Regions from separate parts of the Homo sapiens genome. Here region 1 is linked to region 2. Evidence: fine-mapped expression QTL. A gene starts in region 2. The other region holds a variant in brackets. All regions are shown on one strand. Distances are between the middles of the regions.

Region 1 (8,000 bases), 290 kb after region 2:
AACCAAGGCACTCTAATTTTTCTCATCCTTCCACCTTTTCATTTTCTGCTAGACAATCCCCTATGGTAGAAAAAAAAGCAAAACAGAAAACTAACTAAAAAATCTACCTTTTCCCAGAGTGAAGCAGGTCAAATCCTTCATTTATTTTTTCAAAAGGTAAAACATGGGTTATTAATGCATCCAATGAAAACTTCTTAGCCATAAAATCAGCCACAAGTTTTGGGACACATTCTTTACTTTTAAAGCCTGAAAAGAAGATGGTATCATTGTTAGATTCAACCAGGGTAAGTAGGAGAATTGAAGAGAAGATTTTCCAAATAAATGAAAGTTTAGAAAAGATGCTGCTTCCAGACTGCAACGACTGAGGTTAATAAGAGATACAGTACCTCAATAAGCTTTTACAGGCTCAGACTTAAAAAAAAATCACAGATAAACAAGGGTCCCTGGTTATTCTCTCTCCCACAGAGAAATCATAGTACAGATGTTATGCCCAAAGGAACAAGTTTAACAGTTGTCTAAATTTGGGTGTAGATATGAAATATTGTTGTAGATTTCTGTGTCTTACTAGAAATTCCCATGCCTTACACAGTTACAAGTACGAAAACAGATGAAGAGGAACAGACTTTGTTAATGGTGGCATCAGAAATGTCGATTTTGGGACCTTCTGCCTGCATTAGTTCCATATCTAGTTGATTTGGAGACTGTAGATAGAAAAGGAATTTTAATTTGTTTTTGATCTGCTTTTCAAAACCTTGCCTTGTCACTTGTAAAAGGGGAGATATGCTGAGGTTAATGAGAATTTGGCTCTGAAGCCTAACTACATACCACCAAGAATAGCTCCCTTCCAGGTACGTCCAGTCAGTAGCAGCATAGGGTTCATTGAGAGGTTTTGGGAATCAGGAGGTACCCCTACGATGACACTTGTGCCACATGCCTCATGACAACATAACAGGGAAGCCATCTGGAATAAAGTGAACACTTAGCATTCTTAACATGGAGTCGCATAGTTCCTATTCATAATGCACAATATCATGTAATAGGCTTAACTGGATTGTGAGTGTGTAGAGGGAAGAGATTATGTCTTTTGCTCCTTCAGTCCCCTTTTTTGCACGGGATAGTGCTGTGGATTTAGGAAATGCCCAGAAAACGGTTTTTTAATGAAAGAATGGATGAATAAATTGGAGTGCACTTAATTTTTCCTAATAAAGGAATAAAGTGGTAGATATCATCACAAATATATATTAAGTCCAGTTCCTTATATAAGCATACAATTTCATCATCACATAATTCTTAGGCAATCTGTGAGTTGGTTAATTCATTTTTCATTGATTTATTACATAGGTATTTTGAACCCATTACTTTCAACCACATATTTTAATGGGAAACAAGATAAATGATTATATCACCAAAGTAGTCTCTTGTCCACTTGATGGTCTCCTTTTGTAATGGATTCCTGTTCTACTGTCCATTTCTCAAATGGACATGTTTTAAACATTGTTTTTATCTCCCCAAATATATATAGGTTTTACATTAAAATACCCTGATTATTAGGGAACCTCAAAAGACCGTTCAGAAAGTCTTTTCCAGTGAGCTTTCTGAACACGTTCTATAGTTAGAAAATGGTTTAGGATTGCCCCAAGATATGTAATGATTAGTTCTTTGATTTTGGATTCTGACCTTTGGGAGACCAGACATCCTCAGAACATGTGGCTGTCAGATATTTGGTATCTTGAGATAAGGTACACTCCCGTTCCACATGAGAAAATGGAGGAAGATACAGGAAAAGAACATTAGGAGAAAAGCTATAGCCCTGGAAAAAGTGGAATCTCTTGACACTTCATTCATCTGTGGCATTTGTCCCAGGGCAAGGCTGCTGAGAGCATTGATCTCAGGGTGCTGCTCCCCATTACCCACACTGCTGGACCTTCTAGAAAATCTTGGCAATGGAAACGTGTTGGTCTCTGGAGACTTTTTCAGTAGGATTCTAGAGAATTCTGGGTAGGTGAAATATAGCTAGAGATGTGTTTCCCATTGCCTTTGATATTTGTAACTGTTTGAAAGCAATATCATGTAATAAGCCAAAGATGATGTAAGTACTGCAAGATTGGAAATAGTATTTCATATCAATAACGCCAACTGAGGCCGGGCGTGGTAGCTCGTTCCTATATTCTCAGCATTTTTGGAGGGTGAGGTAGGAGATTTGCTTGAGCCCAGGAGGTTGAGGCTGTAGTGAGTTATAATTATGCCACTGTACTTCAGCCTAAGTGACAGAGTGAGACCCTGTCTCAAATAAAAAGAAGACATTTATTGGGAGCTTACCATATGACAGGCTGCACTGTGCTAAGTATATTACATGCATTGTCTCATGCAATCTATAAACAATGCCATGAGTATATAGCTTTGAAATTTGGGGGGTGATAAAAATCTGTTGACTTTTCAAAGTATTCAGTCCTACTAGTATTGGGCTCTAGTTTTGTGCCAGGTACTGTCCAGTTTCTGTGATAAAATATAGTAATGCATTTGAGCTTCACTTTCCTTAGGGCATGTTTTTGTTAATAAAACAATAGTTGGCCTAAAATTGCTTACTTCTTTTGGCCAAATACTAATATGTTTAAAAAAATTGGAATTTATTAAGAACATATGCAAAATTATTAAATCATTTTTGTTAAGAATGTGGCAGAAAAATAAAACATTCCAATTTGAGAACAGAACTTGTATTATTTATGTTTACTTTAACTTACAGTTTTTAACTAAAAATTAACAAAGTAATCTATTATCACTCAGTTAAGAAAAACAAGCCCTTTGCTTTTCCTCTAGAGGAAATATGACTTGAGACACGTTTGCATAGTTGATAGAATAAAAGATTCCTCATAACAATAAATTAAACAAGCCAGGTAACAAACAGATGATGGGAAATTTCCATTCATCATTAAAAATATCCTTTATACAGAAAACATATATTCTGCAGCCTAAATGCATCCTCCAAGTTGTAGAGGCAGAAATCTCAGGGCATGTCATGGTACATACCATGGTGTCAAGCCGACCGATGACTTCAAATGAAAAATCCACACCTCCATCAGTCATTTCCTTTAGCACCTCCTGGATGGGTTTCTTGTAGTCTTGAGGGTTGATGCATTCAGTGGCACCCAACTCTTTGGCCTTTGCAAATTTGTCCTTGTTGATGTCCACCGCAATGATTCTGGCTGCCCCAGCTGCTTTACAGCCCATAATAGCAGATAGGCCGACCCCTCCCAGGCCAAACACAGCACAGGTAGAGCCTGGGGTGACCTGTGTTTTCAGAAAATGCAAAAATGGATTATAAAAACTTTATAAAGTGCCATGCTTAGTGTTTATCAAAAGCTGCTCAAACTCTTCTGTTCAATCTGTTATCAAAACCTCTTTTGGCTTCAGTTGCTTTATTTTTAAATTCATGGAGTTGAACTAGTTGAGTGGTTCTCAAACTGCTGCATATTGGATTCATCTGGGCAGGTTTAAAAATATCCCACTGTCCAGGTCACAGCCCATGCCAATTAAATGAGAAGCTCTGCAGGTGGAACTTAGTCCCCAGGTGACTCCAATGGGAAGGTCAGGCTGGGAACCAGGCGACTGGATGATCTTTGAGATCCAGATGGCAGTGATTACAATCTTGAAGGGACTCTCGATTGCTGAAATCCCTTGATAGCCAGCTTCAGTAACTCATATATACACAAAGGCAATATTTGGAAAACAAAATAAGTGGAAAAGGCTACTCCAGGAGACTGAAAAATATTCCACTTAAACCCTCAGTAATGAACTCCTTGGTTCATTTATGTTCAGTAGTCATGACCAGTATATCCCTGCTTTAAAAAATACACTAGTGAATAACACAGTAATGAAACATTAGTCTATATTTTAATAATAAAATATATTGTTATGAGTATCCTCATCTTCTGTTCTTGGGTAGGCTCACTTAGATCACCTGTTAAAATAGACGAGGCAATTGAACAAGGGACTAAGAGCTAAAGTCACAGAAATTTGGAAAAGATGCCATCTACATTTTTTTAATTGGCCAGGGGATATTTATTAAACCTAGTCTCCCATAGTCCGCCTTCATTTTGCGTAACATGCTCTTCCTGTTCCAAATAATCTCATTCTTATATTCCCTTAAGGGTGTCTATTCATTCATTCATTCATTCATTCACCAAGTGGTATGCAATACTATGGGGGACAACACCATTTTCTAACTTACTTAGAAAAATACAAGGCTTGTGACTGTGATTTAAAAGTGCTAATAATTATGTATCATGATCTAAGATTCAGCAGGAGATTAGTAAAAGATATTTTAGTCTCAGCTCTCATATTAACCAGCAGTGAGACTTTGGGCAAATATCTTTATATCTCTGGGCCTCGGTTTCATAAAATAAAGCATACTACTAGATTTTCAGCCTACTCAGATAAGAAGCCTTTAAAGAATTTCTGCTTGAAATTTACCACTTCTGAATATATGTGTGTGTTCATGCCAGGGGAGTTAGTTTTAGCAGTGAAATGTCATAATGAGTGAATTACGCATCACTGAAGCGTCATTACTTTCAGTCTAAGAATCCACAGAGTGGGTGAGCCTTGGTTTGGAGGTGCATCAGGTAAGGTTTTGGACTCTACTGTTGTTGATCCTAATTCTGGGAGTAGAGGATCCACAGACTAGCTGCTCCTCA[A/G]GGGCAAACGCTTCATTTCATTTACTTTTGCTGTCAGAGCCTAGCAGAACCTATGGTGCCTGAAGCATGTGTAGGTGCTCTCTAATTGTAGAATGAATTACTAAATGAGTTCTCAGGCCTAATATTTCATGAGCTCATAAAGAGCAAATACAGAAGAGTAATTATTGAAAATGAAATCTTTACATTTTCTAAACTCTCAACAACTTTTTAATCTGATAAACAGGTGAAACTTCTAGCATGTGCTCTCAATTCTTTCTGGATTGTGTTTCTATTCTTAGTCGACATTCAAAATCTACAAAAATAATCTTCGATTCTTGTGAGACATTCCTTCCCTTTGGGTTCCTGACAGTCTGCGTGTAACTGTTTTTATCACCCATTGCCATTCTTACCTTGGCAACATTGACTGCAGACCCATAACCAGTTGAAAATCCACAGCCAATGAGACAGACTTTCTCTAGAGGCGAGGCTGCATCAATTTTGGCTACTGCATTTTCATCCACCACTGTGTACTGTGAGAAGGTGCTGATGCCAAGGAAGTGGTGGATGGGCTTCCTCCTGCAGGTGAACCTGCTGGTGCCATCCTGCAGGGTCCCCTGAGGATTGCTTACACTGGACAGTGCAATACAAAGACACACAAAGGCATGAGACAGGACCATAACTAATGTGCAAACTCAATGTCTGCGCAGGGAGAGCATCAGAAACCTACTCGTTTTTCAAGCAGTAGTTGCTCTCCGGGTTTTTACAAATTCTGCATTTTCCACACTGAGGAATAGCGAGTGGGATGACTTTATCACCTGGAGAGGGATAAAACAAATTCTTTTACAATTTCTATCCAGGTATTAATAGAGCAAAAACATAAAGCTCACATGTCTTTAAAACATTAGAAACATGTGTCTTTAAAAGTCTCCAAGAAATACAGTCCAATCACAAATATGTCATTTGTCATTGCCTGCCACAGCCTTGTTTCCAGTTTGGGTTTATAAGTGCCTGAAGATTCCTAAAGAGGACATGCAAATATGGGAAACAACATGGATTAGAAAAATTGCTTCCACTGTATTAACAGTTACTTTCATGTGGTGTACCAATTTCTCCTGGAGGCTTTACAAACATTTAATTTAATCCTTAACTATATAAATCTTACTGTAAGTATAAATATAAATTTTAGTTGAAAGTAGGGTATAATAGTTCCACTAGATGTTGGTAAGACCTGTTTTTTGTTATAGTTTGATTTACAATAAAAATGAGAATTTTGAACTAATTCTTTTCAAAGTAACTAGGTTTATCTTTATTATGAAATGAATGCTTTTAAAATGATCTCAGTTCTTTTTTTGAGGAAAACTATCAAAAATGGGACAAAGAACAATTCCAGAAATTCCTCTGGAAATTTCAACCCTCCACAATAAGTTAGGCACTTTTAGGATAAGAACTGACTTTGAAATGTTTTTAGCTGATAATTTGTGAATTATCTACTTTTCCTGTTACAGTGGAGGGAGCATGGGTAAAAAGTAAGGGTGTCATTTTGTTATTAACTTATTACTAACTAATTAGTTACTATTAGTATTATTTAGTAGTTATTATTAGTAGTTTAGTAGTTATTAGTTATTATTCAGTAGTTATTAATTTATTACTACTAAAGAAATTAGTAGGAGCTGAAACCCAAATTGGACAGTTCATTTTATTTTTCTGTTCACAGTTCAAATAAGTATTTGGTAAAGTGGCAGGTCCAATCTAGTGCCTAAAGTGATTTTTTAGACTGTAATCCCAGCACTTTGGGAGGCCGAGGCAGGCAGATCACGAGGTCAGGAGATCGAGACCATCCTGGCTAATATGGTGAAACCCTGTCTCTACTAAAAACAGAAAAAATTAGCTGGGTGTGGTGGCGGGCACCTGTGGCCCCAGATACCCGGTAGGCTGAGGCAGGAGAATGGCGTGAACCCGGGAGGTGGAGGTTGCAGTGAGCTGAGATCGCGCCACTGCACTCCAGCCTGGGCGACAGAGCGAGACTCCGTCTCAAAAAAAAAAAAAAAAAAAAGTGATTTTTTTAGAATTAAACATAATTTTTATTTTAAATTACCTATGCTGTCTATTCCACAAGACCAAGAAAAATGGTTGGCCCATAACATTTTATAGGTAAAATTTATGTGAAAATGATAGTATGGAAGTGTCCTAGTTATTCTCCCTTTATAATTAGTAATCCGTAACCAGTTACATTTAAGCATGGCTGAAAGTAATAAGGCAGACATTGTTGATGGTGGATGGCTCTTTCTATGTTTCTTTCATTTCCTTTCACCTAGTCTGCTTCATTGATTCCTTGCTCAGGAAGAGAGACCACGTTGCAAGAGGAAATTGGTGAAGGGGCTGCATAGGTCACCTAAGAAAAGGTCATGCTCATTCAGCCGTAGCCATGTAGCGTCCATTTTGTGAACTCAGCACAGAACAATGTCCATACTTATGTTTTTTCCCTCCTCCCATTTCTAGGTGTCTGGGCCCTGACAGAAGACCGTGTTCACCAACACTAACACGGAAGTTACTAGATTATGAATGCCACACTAGTAGGCACTGTGTCCCTTTTGATCCTCACATATCTCCAGGCTCCAACCTGGTGACTGGCATCTAGCAGATGCTCAGTACATAATTGTTGAAGGGTAGAATACATGCGTGCCTAAAGACATACATGCTTGAGTCAGGCAGGAAGAGAGGGAAAGAGGAAATCCCTGAAGTCCTGGCTGCGCGGTGACCTTGGTCAAGCCCTTTCGTCCCTCTTTGCCTCTGTTTCCTCATTCAGGCTGGGAAATCTTAGGATGGTGAACCATCATGTTTCCTGAATGTGAATCCTGTACCTGGTTTGACTGTAGTCACCCCTTCTCCAACACTCTCCACGATGCCGGCTGCCTCATGGCCTAAAATCACAGGAAGTGGGGTCACCATGGTACCACTAACCACGTGGTCATCTGTGCCACAGATTCCTACAGCCACCATCTACAGAGTGAAGAGAAGATGTTTATAAAAGATTGTGAGTCTCAGGTGAATTTAAAAATCCCAGTTCCCTGAAATTGCGCTTCCAAAATGTTTTCAAGGGTTTTGCTAATAATCCCTACTATCCCAAGTATGAAAGATTCAGTTTATCCTCAAGGTTGACCAGGCTGAAACCCTCCTCTACCTTCCATTCTTGAAGTAAACAGTTTAGAATAATCTGTGAAGTAACTGATCCTGAAATAGTTAAGTCTTAAATAATATAAAAGAATGCATGCCTTTAAAAAATAGAAGTAGAAGTTGCAAATTAATACATAAAAATATCTAATGCTAATT
Region 2 (16,227 bases):
AATGGGGGTCTCCCTATGTTGACTGGGCTGGTCTTGAACTCTTGGACTTAAGCCATTTTCCTGCCTTGGCCTCCCAAAGTGCTGGGATTACAGGGATGAGCCACCATGCCCAGCCGGAAATGGGACTTTTGGGAAACTACTATTCTCTCAGTGGGGCCTTAACAGCAAATAGTGAAAATGCTTTAGGCATTTTAGCTGATGCAAATTCAAGTTTAAGGCGTTATTGAGAAGCTAAAAAACCAAACCAAAAGGAATATAGGCTACATTTAGATATGTATATTTTATTCATTTATTGATGTATTTATTCTATAAATATTTATCAATTGTTGTAGCAAAGACTGGCTAGATGTTGATCAAACCAATTTTGTTTTATTCCTAAGGCCACAGCTGAACTACATTTTCTAGCAATCCTCAGAATAAGATGTGGTCATTGACTGAATTCTGGACAATGGAATGGAGTAGAGTGAAATACATCACTCCTAGGTTTGGCCTGTCAAATCTCATGCACAATTCTGTACATTCATGTGCCAGCCTCTCCTCGGGTGGGGACTCCAAGCACTTTGGAGTTGGTGGAGCCACAAGATGGATCTGAGATCTTTGCTAAGGTAGGGTTTCCCTGGCTGGCCTATAGCTGACTGTGACATAAGAGAGAAATAAATTTTGATTTTCTTAAGCTCCCAAAAGTTTTGAGATTGTTTGTTACAGCCATGAGTCTTCCCTGATTAATACAAATGCAATGTCTATTCTGTGCCAGCCTTATTCTGGGTACTAGGGATGCAACAGGAAACAAATAAGAGACATGATTCCTCCTCTCACAGGAGATACCTTATAAAAGGGGTGGCACACAATAAACAGTGACAACTTACATTTGCATGGTGCTTTACTGTTTACACAGTGCTTTCATGGGCACCAACTCATTTAATTTTTTTTTTTTTTTTGAGTTGGAGACTTGCTCTGCTGCCCAGGCTGGAGTGCAGTGGTGCAATCTCGGCTTATTGCAACCTCTGCCTTCCAGGTTGAAGCGATTCTCCTGCCTCAGCCTCCCGAGTAGCTGGGATTACAGGTGCATGCCACCGCACCTGGCTATTTTTTTTTTTTTATTTTCGGTAGAGACGGGGGTTTCTCCATGTTGCCGAGGGTGGTCTCGAACTCTTGACCTCAGGTGATCCACCTGCCTTGGCCTCCCAAAGTGCTGGGATTACAGGCATGAGCCACCGTGCCTGGCCCAATTTTTATAACAATATTTTACAGATAAGGAAACAAAAGCTCAAAGATTTTAAGTGTCTTGTATGAGACAAGGAATTACGAACTAGACAAATCAATCAGTTTTCTGGCTCCCAACCCATTACTCACAATGATTCTCAAGTATGAGGATATGACAGAGCAAGGAAAGTGCTAATCCTTGTTAGAAAATTCCATTATTCAATTTTATGTCTTAAAATAATGTATTCCACACAAGTGTAAGTCTATTCATGGAAGCATTGATTGTAAGGGCAAAATACAGAAAACAAAGATTTAAATATCCATTCGTAAGAGAATGCACATATTGTGATATATTCAGAGAACAGAAAATTATATGGTAGGGAAAATAAAGAAATTAGGGATTCAAGTATCCCTAATTTCAAGGATGAATCTCACAATCATGATGAAGAATAATGAAGGCAAGAATGAAGAGTACAGAGTATAATGCCATGACAAAGGTTTAAGGTCTTCATGGGAATGATAAACACCAAATTTAGGATAGTGACTCTGCAGAAGAGAAGAAGGCCGATGCAATCAGAGAGAGTTATGCTGAGGAGATCAACTGTATTGGCCATATTTCATTCTTAAGCTGGGTGGTGAATATTACATTATTCTGGATTATCTTCCTTTTGTCCGTCTGAATCTGTTTTCTACCTTCTCATTTCTGCCCTCTGTCCTGAGAGGCTGACTTGTGTGGTCTTCTATAGGATCAATGGGCTCCTTGTCCCAGCTTTCAGAAGATCATAAGGTGGAAGAGAATGAAGTCTCAGCTTCCTGACTTTTTAGGATGACTTTGGGCTGGCCAGGTCTCTTAAGCAGAGGTCACATCTCCTGTTTGGAGGCCCTCTCTACCCAGCCCACTGTGAGTTTTGGTAATTGCCCAGTCCCCTTGTGCCTGCAGGGCCAGAAATGGAAATGTCCTATTGTTAACACTCAGTTACTACACCATTCCTTACAGTTTTCCGAAACCCTGCCACCCAAGCTGGAGTGCAGTGGCTGGATCATAGCTCACTGCAGCCTTGAACTCTTGGGCTCAAGCAATGCCAGGGAGCTGAAGCTAAAGGCATATGCTACCACCTGTGGCTAATTTTAACTATTTGTTTTTAATTTCTTTTAATTTTAATTTTTATTATTATGATTTTTAGATGGAGTCTCGCTCTGTCGCCCAGGCTGGAGTGCAATGGCGCGATCTTGGCTCACTGCAACCTCCGCCTCCAGGGTTCAAACGATTCTCCCACCTCAGCCTCCCCAGTAGCTGGGATTACAGGCACCCACCATCATGCCTGGATAATTTTTGTAGAGATGGGGTTTCACCATGTTGTCTGGGCTGGTCTCGAACATCCGCCCACCTCGGCCTCCCAAAGTGCTGGGATTACAGGCGTGAGCCACTGCACCCGGCCTTTTATTTTTTAAAGAGATGAGGGTCTTGCTATATTGCCCAGACTGGTCTGGAACTCCTGGCCTCAAGCTGTCTTCCTGCCTCAGCCTCCCAAAGTGCTGGGATTACAGGTAATTTGAAAAGAATGAAGAGTTTAATCGAGACTATAGCCATCCTGAATTAAGGAACAGAGAAGGGGACAAAGAAAAAGAAGAGACTGTAGTTGGACATGGTGGCTTGCACCTGTAATCCCATCACTTTGGGAGGCTGAGATGGGAGGATGGCTTGAGGCCAGGAACTGGAGACCAGTCTGGGCAACATTTCAAGACCCCATCTCTATAAAAAATAAAAACAAAATAGTTGGGAGTGGCGGTAAGTACTTGTAGTGTGAGACAATCTTATTTGAGCCCAGAAGCTCGAGGTTACTGTGAGCCATGACTGAGCCACAGCACTCCAGCCTAGGGGACAGAATGAGACCCTGACTCTAAAATAAATACACAAAAATACCATTTTATTTATTTGGTGTTACCCAGCTTGAGAGTGCCATCTGTTTTTTTGCTGGGTTGCTGAGTTCTGACTGATAGAATAGATATTCTCTCTCTTTTTCTCTCTCCAGACACATGAATCTTTTTTTTGCATATTTGACATAATGTGCTAACAAGTTGAGAAGAAAAAACTTTTATTTTTAATTTTTGATACAGGGACTTGTTCTGTCGCCCAGGCTGCAGTGCAGTGGTGTGAGCATAGCTCACCGCAACCTCAATTTCCCAGACTCAGGCGATCCTTCTGCCTCAGCCTCCTAAGTAGCTGGGATGACAGGTGACCACTACGAGGTCCAGCTAATTTTTAAAATTTTACTTTTAGGCTGGGCACAGTGGCTCACGCCTGTAATCCCAGCACTTTGGGAGGCCAAGGTGGGTGGATCACTTGAGGTCAGGAGTTTGAGACCAGCCTGACCAGCACGGAGAAACCCCGTCTCTTCTAAAAATACAAAATTAGCAGGGTGTGGTGGCACATGCCTGTAATCCCAGCTACTCGGGAGGCTGAGGCAGGAGAATCGCTTGAACCCAGGAGGCGGAGGTTACGGTGAGCCAAGATTGCGCCATTGCACTCCAGCCTGGGCAACAAGAGCGAAACTGTCTCAAAAAAAAAAAAATTACTTTTGGCAGAGATGAGATCTCGCTATGTTGCCCAGGCTGGTCCCAAATGCCTGAGCTCAAGTGATCCTCCTGCCTTGGCCTCCCAAAGTGCTGAGATTGTAGGTGAGAGCCACCATGCCCAGCCAAACATTTATTGAGCACCTATTATATATCAAGCATTGTGCTAGGGTTAAGGTTTGGAGATAGAGAGAAAAATAAATTAAATCTGTTGTTACAAGGAAGTCACAGTCTAGTAGGAGACACAGGTGAAAAACTGGCAATGAAGTATAGTGGCTAAAAACATGGGATTTGCAGTCTGAGAAACCTGAGCTCAATTCTAGGTTCTGTTACCTACTGGCTATGTGACCTTGGGCTACAGAAATAAAAATGGGATTACTACTGGTACCTTCCTTATAGGGTAGTTGTGAGGATTAAAAGTAAAAGCACTAGTATCTATACTTTTACATCTCACTAGTTATGTGTTGCTTAACCATGGGGATATGCTCTGAGAAACGCATTGTCAGGTGATTTTGTGGTTGTGTGAATATCATAAAGTGTCCTTACACAAACCTAGGTGGTGTAGCCTACTACACGCCTGGCTGTGTGGTGCACAGGCAGTCTACTGCTTTGAGGTTACAAACTTGTACAGCATGTTACTGCACTGAACACTGTAGGCAATTGTAACACAGTGGTATGTGTGTATCTAAATGTATCTCAACATACAAAGTTCCAGTAAAAATATGGCATAATAAATCTTATGAGACCACTGTTGTATATGTGCTCTGTCATTGACCCAAGTGTTGGAATGTCATACACATGACTATATGCCTAGGATATATTAAGTCCTTAATAAATGTTACCTAAAATTATTGTCAATTGTAACAATAGCACTTTGTACTTGGTTTAGAGGTAGCACAGAGGAGGCACTGATTAAGTAGAGCTAAGGAGGTCAGCAGAAGTTTAATGGGTGAAGCGATGTCAGAGCCGGATCTTAAGGAAATGGTACTTTCACCAAGAGATCAAGTGGGGAAAGGCAATCCAGACAGAGGAAACAACATGTATAAGAACATGGAAGAATGAAATAGCACTATGTGTTCAGGAAAACATGAGCATCTTGCTATTGCTAAATGGTCAAGGCCTAGGCATGAAAAATAATGAGACGAGGCTGAGTTACGTGGAGGTATACACAAAAAGCCTGGATTGGACTTGATCCTGCAGTTGAGCATCTAGGAAGAATTTTTAATTCTAATTTTTAATTTTTAGCACCATTTACTTGCTTTTGAGAGGAAGAATTTCTAAAACTTTTATTTTAAAATAATTTCAAAGCTGTAGAAAAGTAGCAAATTGAAAAAATAAAAAACTCTGCTATACCCAGGTTCTCCAATTTTTAACGTTCTCTCACATTTGTCTTATCATTCATTTCTCTTTCTGACTTCCACTATGTGTAATTGTCAAAATCAGGGAATTCATAAGGATACAACGCAACCTAATTTCCTTTATAGCAAAAACCTTTCTTTCTTTTGATCCAAAAATCCAACCCATGATCATGTGTTGCATTTAGCTGTCAGGTCTCTTCAGTCTCCTTGAATCTGGAAGAGTTCTTCAAATCTGTCTTTTGGGACATTGGCATTTTGAAGAGCATAGGTCAATTATATTGTAGAATGTCTTCAGCTTGTGTTTGTCTGATATTTCCTCATGATTAGAGGCATTTATGCATTTTTTTTCAGGAACACTAGAAAAGATAATACTGTATTCTCCTCAATGGTTCATATAGAGAGGTGTACAATGTCTATTTGTCACATTATTGGTGATTTTTCACTTTGATCACAATAAAGAGTATCTCCCAGGTCTCTCCACTTTAAAGTTACTATTTTTCCTTTTTAAATGATAAACGTTTTGTAGGGAGTTACACTGAGATATGTAAAAATATGGCAAACTATATAAAGAACAAAAGACAGTGAAAACTCTTAACGCAGCAATTCCACTTTTAAGACTGTATCTGAAGACCTCCTCGCCTCATGCCTGCATGCAGGCTGCATGCCTGCTCATCCCAGTACTTTGGGAGGCCAAGGTGGGAGGATGGCTTGAGATCAGGAGTTCGAGACCAGCCTGGGCAACATAGGGAGACCCTGTTGCTATTAAAAAAAAAAAAAAAAAAAAAAAATATATATATATATATATATATATATCTCCTAAGTAAATAAGGATGTATGTAAAGTTTTAGCTAAACGGATATTCACTGAAACCTTGTTTATAATAGATAACAATTTAAAATAACCTAAATGTCCATTATTAGTGGATTTGGTTCAGTAAATTACCCATACGATAGAATATTATGCAGACATTAAAATTATGTGGTAAAAGTATAATTGATGACAATAAAGAATGTTGTGTGCAGTGGCTTGTGCCAGTAATCCCAGCACTTTGGGAGGCGGGGGTGACAGGACCACTTCAGCCCAGAAGTTCAAGACCAGCCTGGACAACATAGTGAGACCCCTGTCTCCACAAAAAAGCTAAAAAATTAGCTGGGCAAGGTGGCGTGTACCTGTAGTCCTAACTAGTCCAGAGGCTGAGGCAGGAACATCACTTGAGCTCAGGATGTTGAGGCTGCAGTGAGCTGTTGTGTCCGGAATTGGTGGGTTCTTGGTCTCACTGACTTCAAGAATGAAGCCATGGACCCTCACCGTGAGTGTTACAGTTCTTAAAGGCATCGTGCCTGGAGTTTGTTCCTTCTGATGTTCAGATGTGTTCAGAGTTTCTTCCTTCTGGTGGGTTCCTGGTCTCGCTGGCTCAGGAGTGAAGCTGCAGACCTTCACGGTGAGTGTTACAGCTCTTAAGGCGGCACTTCTGGAGTTGCTTGTTCTCCCGGGTGGGTTGGTGGTCTCGATGGCTTCAGGAATGAAGCTGCAGACCTTCATGGTGAGTCTTACACCTCATAAATGCAGTGTGGACCCAAAGAGTGAGCAGTAGCAAGACTTATAGCAAAGAGTGAAAGAACAAAGCTTCCACGGTGCAGAAAGTAACCCCCATGGGTTCCCACTGCTAGCTTGGGCAGCCTGCTTTTATTCCCTTAACTGGCCCCACCCACATCCTGCTGATTGGTCCATTTTACAGAGAGCTGATTGGTCCATTTTGACAGGTTGCTGATTGGTGCGTGTACAAACCTTGAACTAGACACAAAAGTTCTCCAAGTTCCCACTAGATTAGCTAGACACAGAGCACTGATTGGTGCATTTACAAACCTTGAGCTAGACACATGATGCTTATTGGTGCATTTACAAACCTTGCACTAGATACAGAGTGCTGATTGGTGTATTCACAATCCCTTAGCTAGACATAAAGATTCTCCAAGTCCCCACCAGATTAGCTAGATACAGAGTGTGGATTGGTGCATCCACAAACCCTGAGCTAGACACAGGGTGCTGATTGGTGTGTTTACAAACCTTGAGCTAGATACGAGTGCTGATTGGTGTATTTACAATCCCTTAGCTAGACATAAAGGTTCTCCAAGTCCCCACTAGACTCAGGAGCCCAGCTGGCTACACCCAGTGGTTCCCGCACTGGGGCCGCAGGTGGAGCTGTCTGCCAGTCCCGAGCTGTAAGCCCACACTCCTGAGCCCTTGGGTGGTCCATGGGACCGGGTGCCCTGGAGCAGGGGGTGGCCCTCGTGGGGAGGCTTGGGCCACGTGGGCAGGAGCCCACGGTGGGGCCGGGGGAGGCTCAGGCATGGCGGGCTGCAGGTCCTGAGCCCTGCCCCGTGGGGAGGCAGGTAAGCCCCGGCAAGAAATCCAGCACAGCACTGGTGGGCCGGCACTGCTGGGGGACCCGGCGCACCCTCCGCAGCTGCTGGCCCAGGTGCTAAGCCCCTCACTGCCCGAGGCCGGCGGGGCCGGCCGGCCGCTCTGAGTGCGGGCCGCCAAGCCCACGCCCACCTGGAACTCTAGCTGGCCCGCAAGCGACGCACGCAGCCGCAGTTGCCACCCGTGCCTCTGCCACCACACCTACCACAAGCTGAGGGAACCGTCTCTGGCCTCGGCCAGCCCAGAGAAGGGCTCCCACGGTGCAGCGGCGGCTGAAGGGCTCCTCAAGCACGGCCAGAATGGGAGCTGAGGCCAGGAGGCACCGAGAGCAAGCAAGGGCTGCGAGGGCTGCCAGCATGCTGTCACCTCGCTGTCACCTCTCACTGTGAGCACCACTGCACTCCAGCCTGGTTGACAGGATGAGATGCTGTCTCAAAGAAAAACCAAACGACAAACAAAAAGTTGACATCATAGTAACTGAAGAAATCAGGTAAGTAAATTACTTTATATGGTATGGTGCAGTTTTTATTTAAAAAATATTTTATACATACATACATACTTATTGATTTTTTTCTTGTATACAAAAGTATATGTATGTATGCATGTAAACATTTCTATTACTTGATTTTATTACATCATTTTTACTGCTTATATTGCAAAACTAAGTTTTTTTTTTTTTGAGACATGGTCTTGCTCTGCCGTTTGGGCTGGAGTGCAGTGGCAGGATCATAGCTTACCATATCCTTGACTTCTCAGGTTCAACAGATCCTCCCAGCTCAGCCTCCTCAGTAGCTGGGACTACAGGCGCCTGCCACCATGCCCGGCTAATTTTTTAGTTTTTAGTTTTAGTTTTTGTAGAGACGGGGTTTTGCCATATTTCCACCCTGGTCTCGAACTCCTGGCCTCAAAGAATCCGCTGGCCTTGGTGCCCTGGATGCCCTGGCCTCTCAAAGTGCTGGGATTGATTACAGGCGTCAGCCACCGCTCCTAGCCAAAACAAAGTTCTTAAAAATAAAAGTAGTATGAGCTTTTCTGGTGTATTAAGTACGGAGAAGTTAAAAAAATACAATAACAAAGTTCACAGCCTTTTGTGATCAGTAAATGTTAGTTTTTCGCTCTTCCCTAGTGACAAGGAGGCACTCAAGCATGAGTTACAACACAACCGACCTGGAATACAGCTGAAAAGATTGAAGCAACAGGTTCGCAGGGGAAGGCCTTTACAGCTTCTTTCGACTCTGACATTTCAGGATCAGCACAATTCTCCCCTATTTACTGCTGAAGCAATCAACTGGGATTATACAAAAAAATTATTTGTATTGAATACCTGACAGTTGTGTTACTATTACTAGCACTATCGGTTTTGAAGGGGAGGTGGTGGTGTGTGGAAAAAAAAAGTCTGGCAGGAGGGAGGGCAGATGTGAATCCCAGCCCACCGTCCCGTTGACAGCTCTATGGCTCTCCTTTCTGTGAATGAGCGGTGGTCCTTAGGCCTCAGACCCGACAATGTCAGTGAGAAACAGAACTTAACCCAAGGGACTGTTCTCCAAGGAGCGGCGGGGGAATCCAACGCAGAGGAGCGCAGCGCCCTCTCTAGCCTCCTGCGGGTGTCGGGGATGATCAGGGCTCCTGGGTGTTCGTCAGTGAAGACGACTGTCTTATCTGACTGTAGGCACAGAGAGTGCGCCGCGAGAGGGCGGCTCCTCACCGTCAGGCGCCGGCAGGTCGCGTTCTCTGCTGGCCGACGCCCGAAGGCGCCGAATGGGGGGGCCCTGCCGAGCTCCCTTACAGCCCCAATGTGCGCGCCGCCGGGAGGCTTGGGCACGCAGGCACCGCCGGCGGGGGGCGGGGCGAAGCCGGCGGGGCGGGGCACCAGCTGCGCGCGCGGGGCGGGGGCGGGGCCGGGGCGGGGCGCGCTGCGTGGTCCCGGCCGGCCCTGGCTCCTCCCCCTCCCGCGCCCAGGCCAGCGGCGGGCCCAGCTCCTCCCCCGACTCGGTCTCTCTCCCCTCCCCTCCGCCCGGCAGTTCCTCCCTCCCGCCGCCGCCTCTTCCTCGGTGAGGCGCTCTTCCAGCGGGCAGGCAGCATGGCGGCCGTGGAGACGCGGGTGTGCGAGACAGACGGCTGCAGCAGTGAGGCCAAGCTCCAGTGTCCCACTTGCATCAAGCTGGGCATCCAGGGCTCGTACTTCTGCTCGCAGGTAGGCGCCCGCTGCCCCGCGGATATGCCGCCGCTGCGGGACCCCTCCTCGCTTCTCCCCTGCTGGCTCCTCCCGCCCTTGCGGCGAGTCGGGACGCGCTCCTCCTCTTCCCCCCGGCCGCGTTTCCTCCTCCCCCCACCCGCGTCGCCACCGCCCCCTCCTGCCTCCTGGGGTCCCTGGGTCCTCGGGAACCGCGCTGGGCTCACGCGGGGGCGGGGGCGCCACCCGCCGCGGCCATGTGGGCTGGGGCGGAAGCGGGCTGTGCGGGGTCGCGTGGCCGCGCTAGACCTCCGCGTTCTGGGGCCGGTTCCCCGCGCTGGGGCGGGGGCCGCCAGGTGTGCGGGCTGCCGGAGGCAGGTAGCGGCGCCGGGAAGGAGGGCAGCCCGAGCGTCGCGAGCCTCCACATCCGCAGCACCGGCGGGGCTCGGGTCTGGGCGCTGGAGGCGCCGGGCCGTCCGTCGGGTCCCTGCGGGGTGGGGGGCTGAAGCTACCTGCCGGGCTCTGAGAGATGGGTGGCCCGAGGACCGTCGGAGTCGCAGAGAGGAGGAACGCTAGCTAGCTCCAGCCCCACTTCTTTGTGCTTTACTACCGTGCTTTGACACTTAAGCAACTTTGGGGGTGGGGAAGGGAGAGGTCTGTGTAATTCATTCTTTTCTTTCGGTATATAAAATTATTAATTTACAAAACTGTAAGCTAACGGGATGAGTCACCTGTGACTGAATTTCCCAGAGTGAAAAGGACAGTTCCATTGAGGGTTAGGCGTGAATGCTGTAGTGTATTTTAAGTTTTGTGCAGTAGAGCAAACCCAGCGTTGAATGGGGTCCAGACTGAAGCGTGTGCTCGTGTTTCTGTTTACTGAAGAGTACTAGTGTTGCTGCTGCATTTCGAGACCCAGGATGAGGGCTGGGCGGCAATAGTATGGCTCTTAGTTACAGTCCAGGTTTAGTGAAGAGAGGCACATGAATATTCAAATATTAAATTGGTAGCGTCCTGTGGGGAGGAGAGCCGGAATAAAGAGAAGGCCTGATTGGGGCCCTGCCCTTGCCAGTTATTGTGCGATCTTGAATTAGTAAAGTTACTTAATCTTTCTGAGTTCCAGTGTTACACTGTACAGAGGGGATGATTATAGCTTTCTTTGTAAGTTTCACAAGCTTCTTCTGAGACCCAGATTATCCAAGGAACGTGAAATGCTGTTATAATGTAAAGTCCTTTATTTTTTAAAGGATTCTAGTACGATTTAACTCTGCCATAAATAAAAATATGAATAAGAATGAAGGCAGATATATGAACACAATACAAATAATAAAAGTGTTTTCCAACATAAAACATAAAAACGTAAAGATATAAATAAATACAATCTTTACGTCACAATATTTGTAGATAAGCGATTGCAAAAGGTCTTAGCTGTGTTATACAGTCTTGTTTTTAGATAGGATATGATCCTTGACCTTGTTAGTATAATTTGGAAAAACTTGCACGTGGAGGAGTGTTGCTTGATCTAAAAATAGCATTACCGAACAATCTAAAGGACCTGTACTAGGTTTAACATGTTGAGCATTACTCATGTTAGACCTAGTACACGTCCTTTAGATTCTTTAAAATTCCCAAATTCTATCTTGTTGTGGCCTGTGTGGGACCTGAAATTAAGAAACAGTGTTTGCTTTTGACAGTTGTACCATCTGAGTAGAATAACTTTAAAAGTAGGTGGCATTTTGAATTAATATGTATTACAATCTTCTGTTAAGATTTTAAAAAGGTAGTGTGAAACCACATTCATGAAACAGGTAGAAAGAAGGTGAATCACTGGGGTTTGTGGAAAAATGCTAGACAAATTTGTGAAAACAAAACATCTAGGGTTTATTCCGTGTGTTAGGATTGGAGGTATTTACATGTTGGATTCTGCAGGTATATTTCTGGTATCACTGTTAGACATGCACTCAAATATTCCCAGAGTGGCTGTCCCAACTGTCTCTTTTTCTTCATTTCTGTTACCACCTCCTATGGTCAGCTTTTAAAATTTCCCACCAAATCAGTTGTCATACTCTCTTAATTTATTTCTCTACTGTAATTCCTCCCCTTGCAAACAAACGCCCACAAAAAACCCTATCAAACAAAACCTTTTGTACAGAAGTTATTTTTCCCGCAGTCTGATTATGCGTATCCCTCATTGCTTTCAGGATTCCAGCCCCACATTCAGGGCCCCTCTTCTGAGCCTCTTGCTCTAGCCAAAGGCTATGTTTACATTCTTTCCTTTCCGAAGTGTCACCTGTCTTCTGAAATCACAGCTGTTCCCCCAATCCCAGCTTGAGACCTTGATCAAGTCACTGTAACTTATTCTAAGCGCTTTATACATCTGTGATGAAATATGGGCTTGGCTGGGCATGGTGGCTCACACCTGTAATCTCAGCACTTTGGGAGGCCTAGGCGGGTGGATCACCTGAGGTCAGGAGTTTGAGACCAGACTGGGCAACATGTCAAAACCCTGTCTCTACTAAAAATACAAAAATTAGCTGGGCGTGGTGGCACACGCCTGTAGTCCCAGCTACTCAGGAGGCTGAGACACAAGAATCACTTGAACCTGGGTGGTGGAGGTTGCAGTGAGCCGAGGTTGCACCACTGCACTCTATCCTGGGCAACAGAGCAAGACTCCGTCTCAAGAAAAAAACAAAAACAAAACAAAACAAAAAACCAAAAAGAAGAAATTAGGGATTTTCCTTAACACTTCTGTGATCACTAGGAGGTCTTTCTTTCTACTGCTCTGGTCCCTGGCCTGGCTGTCTGGCCAGCTTGTCTTTGGGAACAAACAGAACAAAACTGCAAGAGGCCTTTCTATCACACCATTAACAGAAGTAAGGCATTCCCAGTTACTCTGTCACACCACCTTGTTTATTCCTTTATGACCTTTTGTGCAATCTATGATTACCTCACCTGTTAGAAAAATGAGGATTTTTTTTTTTTTTGAGACGGAGTTTCGCTTTTGTTGCCCAGGCTGGAGTGCAATGGTGCGATCTCGACTCACCGCAACCTCCGCCTCCCAGGTTCAAGCAGTTCTCCTGCCTCAGCCTCGCAAGTAGATGGAATTACAGGCATGCACCACCACGCTCAGCTAATTTTGTATTTTTAGCAGAGATGGGGTTTCTCCATGTTGAGGCTGGTCTCGAACTGCTGACCTCAGGTGATCCACCCTCCTTGGCCTCCCAAAGTGCTGGGATTACAGGCGTGAGCCACCATGCCCGGCCGAGAATGTCTGTTTTTTAGTCGGAAGGTGAACTTCATGAATGATCCTATCTTGTTCACTGCCCTGTTCTCATTTCCCAGTATGATGCTCTGTATGCAGTAGGTGGCCATTAAATGTTTGAATTAATGGATAAATGCATCAAAATAGAGAGGTATACTGCTGTGTTTGAATCACAGCTCCATCATTTACTAGTTATGTGACTTGGGCAAATAACCTCTCTTTTTCAGCTGTATCTTTTTAAAATGGGGCTATTAATAATACCTATCTCAGGGTTTTGATGAAGACTAAATCCAAAGTATGTAAAGCTCTTAGCATATTAGTAAACTTAATGAATGTTAGCTCTTTTTATTGTTATACTGTTTTATGTTTAGGAAAGTAGAAATATTTTATCTAGGATGCTTAATTTTTTTTTTTTTTTTTTTTGAGACCGAGTCTTGCTCTGTCACCCAGGCTGGAGTGCAGTGGTGTGATCTCGGCTCACTGCAACCTCTGCCTCCCGGGTTCAAGCGATTCTGCTGCTTCAGCCTCCCCAGTAGCTGAGATTACAGGTGCGCACCACCACGCCTGGCTAATTTTTTTGTATTTTTAGTAGAGACGGGCTTTCACCGTGTTAGCTAGGATGGTCTGTAACTCCTGACCTCGTGATCCGCCTACCTCAGCCTCCCAAAGTGCTAGGATTACAGGCATGAGCCACTGTGCCAGCCTAGGATGTTTGATTTTAAGGAAAGCTTTTGTTCTTTAGAGGAGTACAACCAGTTTTACTTGAAAATTGAGTTTTCCAAGAGTTCTTGATGTTCGATTGTGTTTATTAATAGAAGTTTTCCTTCCTATTTAATAGTTTATGTATGTCTTTTTCATTTGTGTGTAAGAATTTTTTGAGGACAGAGGGTGTGTTTTACTCATTTTTGTATTTTCCAAAGTGCCTTGCCCACAGTAGGCCCTCATTTCCTTACATGAAAGAAAAGACATCAGTGGGCTTGCAATGGAAAACAAAGAAATTCTGTATTTACATTATCCTTTGTAAACACTGAATAGTATAGTATATTGTTGATACACTCATTTATTTGCTTATGGTTGAATTTAGTTACTTTTCAGTTTTTTAGCTGATGTTTAACTTTGTGAATAGCATAGGGCAGTTGCTGTCTCCTCTGGTTAGAGGATCAGCTGGGAGGGACCTGAGTGATCTGTAACTATTTATATTTATAAGGCATAAAAGGTAGTAAGCATAGTGTAAGTGGAAGGAGACCTGGATTTTGCTCCCATGACCTTGGGTAAGTCCCCTCCTTTGCTTAATGAAGCATCCTCTTCAATGGAGTTGAGCAGAAGGTGACTAAGAGAGCATCCAGGGTGCCTAGTAGAGCATATAGTAAATTTGGGCCTTATTGTGCATATAACCTCATATGTAATGTTATTAAAATCAGTACCAAGGAAGGCTTAAAAATCTTTGAGGGGAAATGTTACTTGTTTATGAACATTTTTGACAAATCCAATAATAGGTTCTTTAAAAGAAGTGGTAGGTAACATGATTAACTGAATCCAGGAAGAAAGTCTTTTTTTTTTTTTTTTTTAAATAACAAGACAGTTTTTCTTCTCTCTCTCTCTTTTTTTTTTTTTGAGTTGGGATCTTACTCTGTCAACCCAAGGTTGAAGTGCAGTGGCGTGATCTTGGTTCACTGCAACCTTCACCTCCCAGGCTCAAGTGATCCTCCTACCTCAGCCTCCCAGGTAGCTGGGAACACCAGTTTGAGCCACCACACCTGGCTAATTTTTTGTGTTTTTGGTAGAGACGGGGTTTCACCGTGTTGCCCAGGCTGGTCTTGAATTTCTGAGTTCCACTTTGCCTCAGCCTCCCAAAGTGTTGTCTATACAGGTGTGAGCCACTGCACCTGGCTGGAAGAAAGTCTTGTTGAGCATCTTGTAGGTTGGAGTTAGAAGGTAGAGAAGGAATTGCCGTTATAACATGCAGTATCTTTGAAATGCAACCCTGCCCTCTGAAACTTTCTCTGTCAGTAACAACATTCCTGCCAGTGCAGGGTGTTTCTGGAATTCATCTTCATTAAAGGAGATATTATCATGTTGTGCGTTTTTATTTATAGGGATTTTCTTTAAATTCCTCATGTCACTTCAGACCACCCTTAAACACTCCTGTAAGTTAGCTGAGTTTAGGTACAAATGCCATAGCTTCTTATAAGCAAAAAGATAGGATGAGGTAAAGAGAAATTATGAGTCTTTTTAAAACAAAACAAAAATAATTTCATAAATTGTTTATTGTAGAAAAATAGAAAATATGTGTGAAGATAATCAATTACCCAGAGATGATTTCTATGAAATTTTGGTGTGTATTCTTAAGAACATATTTGCGTATTTATTCATGTGCACACAGTTGTGTATGTTTTTACAAAAATGGCAACCATAATACATATAATCTTAGAGAATTTTCTCATCCTTAATGTCTTAACCAGTGTTTTGGTAGTGTCATGTCATGGCTACATTTACATGATCCTTTATAAAGACTGTTATGGGTGTACTGTCATTTGTTTATTCACTTATAGTTGAATTTAATTTCTTTTCAATTTTTTACCTTCTGTTTACTCTTCAATAAATATTCCTCGAAAATTTAAATCATTTTGACTTACTCAGGAACGTATAATAATGGTACAGGATTTGGTACATGAACCCAGAATTGAACTATCCTAAGCTAATTCTATATCCTTTTCCAGAACAGTGGTTCTCACAGTGTAGTTAGTGGATTATTGTTGGTTTGAGGGCCTTCTGGTCATCTATGAAGTTTTGGCATGAAATATACCTACATTACAGTAGAATTTGTAAAACAACAACAACAAAAAAACGAGCATCATTTGGTTGGTAGGCAATCAAAAGTTATACCAGTCTTTGAGTTACCTTTTTGGAAATTGAAGTGCTATAGGAAATGTGATCTTATACTGTTCACTTAGTTTGTGGATTGAAATCAAGTTTTAGTCATGGTTTTTTAAGGTGAATCTTTTTCATGTTTAGCATATTTGCAAAATTTTAGTTAAGTTTTAGTAAATTTCATAGGAGTGACAGACATAAGTGCATAGCTAAGCTCATTCCAGCTCTAGATATTCGGAAGAAAAGCAGTGGCACGGTAACTCCTTCTGTAATTGTCTTTGGTATTACTGCAATAGCAAACACTTTTAGATAGATATTAAATAGGCAGAAATACTTTATAAAGCAACCGTTGAGCTTCATTCTGT

Evidence for each region. PIP is the estimated chance that this variant, and not a neighbour inherited with it, causes the effect. A credible set is the group of variants that fine-mapping cannot tell apart.
Region 1: its variant is the best candidate, but not a certain one, in a credible set for the expression of METAP1 in visceral fat (GTEx, PIP 0.60).

Annotation. Positions count from the first base shown.
Region 1 is chr4:99,279,319-99,287,318 of GRCh38, forward strand. It overlaps ADH1A (alcohol dehydrogenase 1A (class I), alpha polypeptide), which reads right to left. Exons shown (of 9, transcript NM_000667.4): 3 at 7,532-7,670; 4 at 5,398-5,485; 5 at 5,081-5,300; 6 at 3,028-3,288; 7 at 826-961; 8 at 108-246. It overlaps LOC100507053 (a long non-coding RNA gene), which reads left to right. Exons shown (of 10, transcript NR_037884.1): 5 at 7,477-7,715. Among named protein-coding and RNA genes, the nearest start is that of ADH1A, 7.7 kb to the right of the region's middle. RefSeq lists an enhancer at 6,949-8,000. The variant A/G (reference allele first, on the strand shown) is at 4,692.
Region 2 is chr4:98,986,115-99,002,341 of GRCh38, forward strand. METAP1 (methionyl aminopeptidase 1) reads left to right here and starts at 9,607. Exons shown (of 11, transcript NM_015143.3): 1 at 9,607-9,753. The coding sequence starts at 9,640. It overlaps MIR3684 (microRNA 3684), which reads left to right and starts at 11,273; the gene lies at 11,273-11,346. RefSeq lists enhancers at 9,049-9,098, 10,020-10,802 and silencers at 9,339-9,658, 9,819-10,278.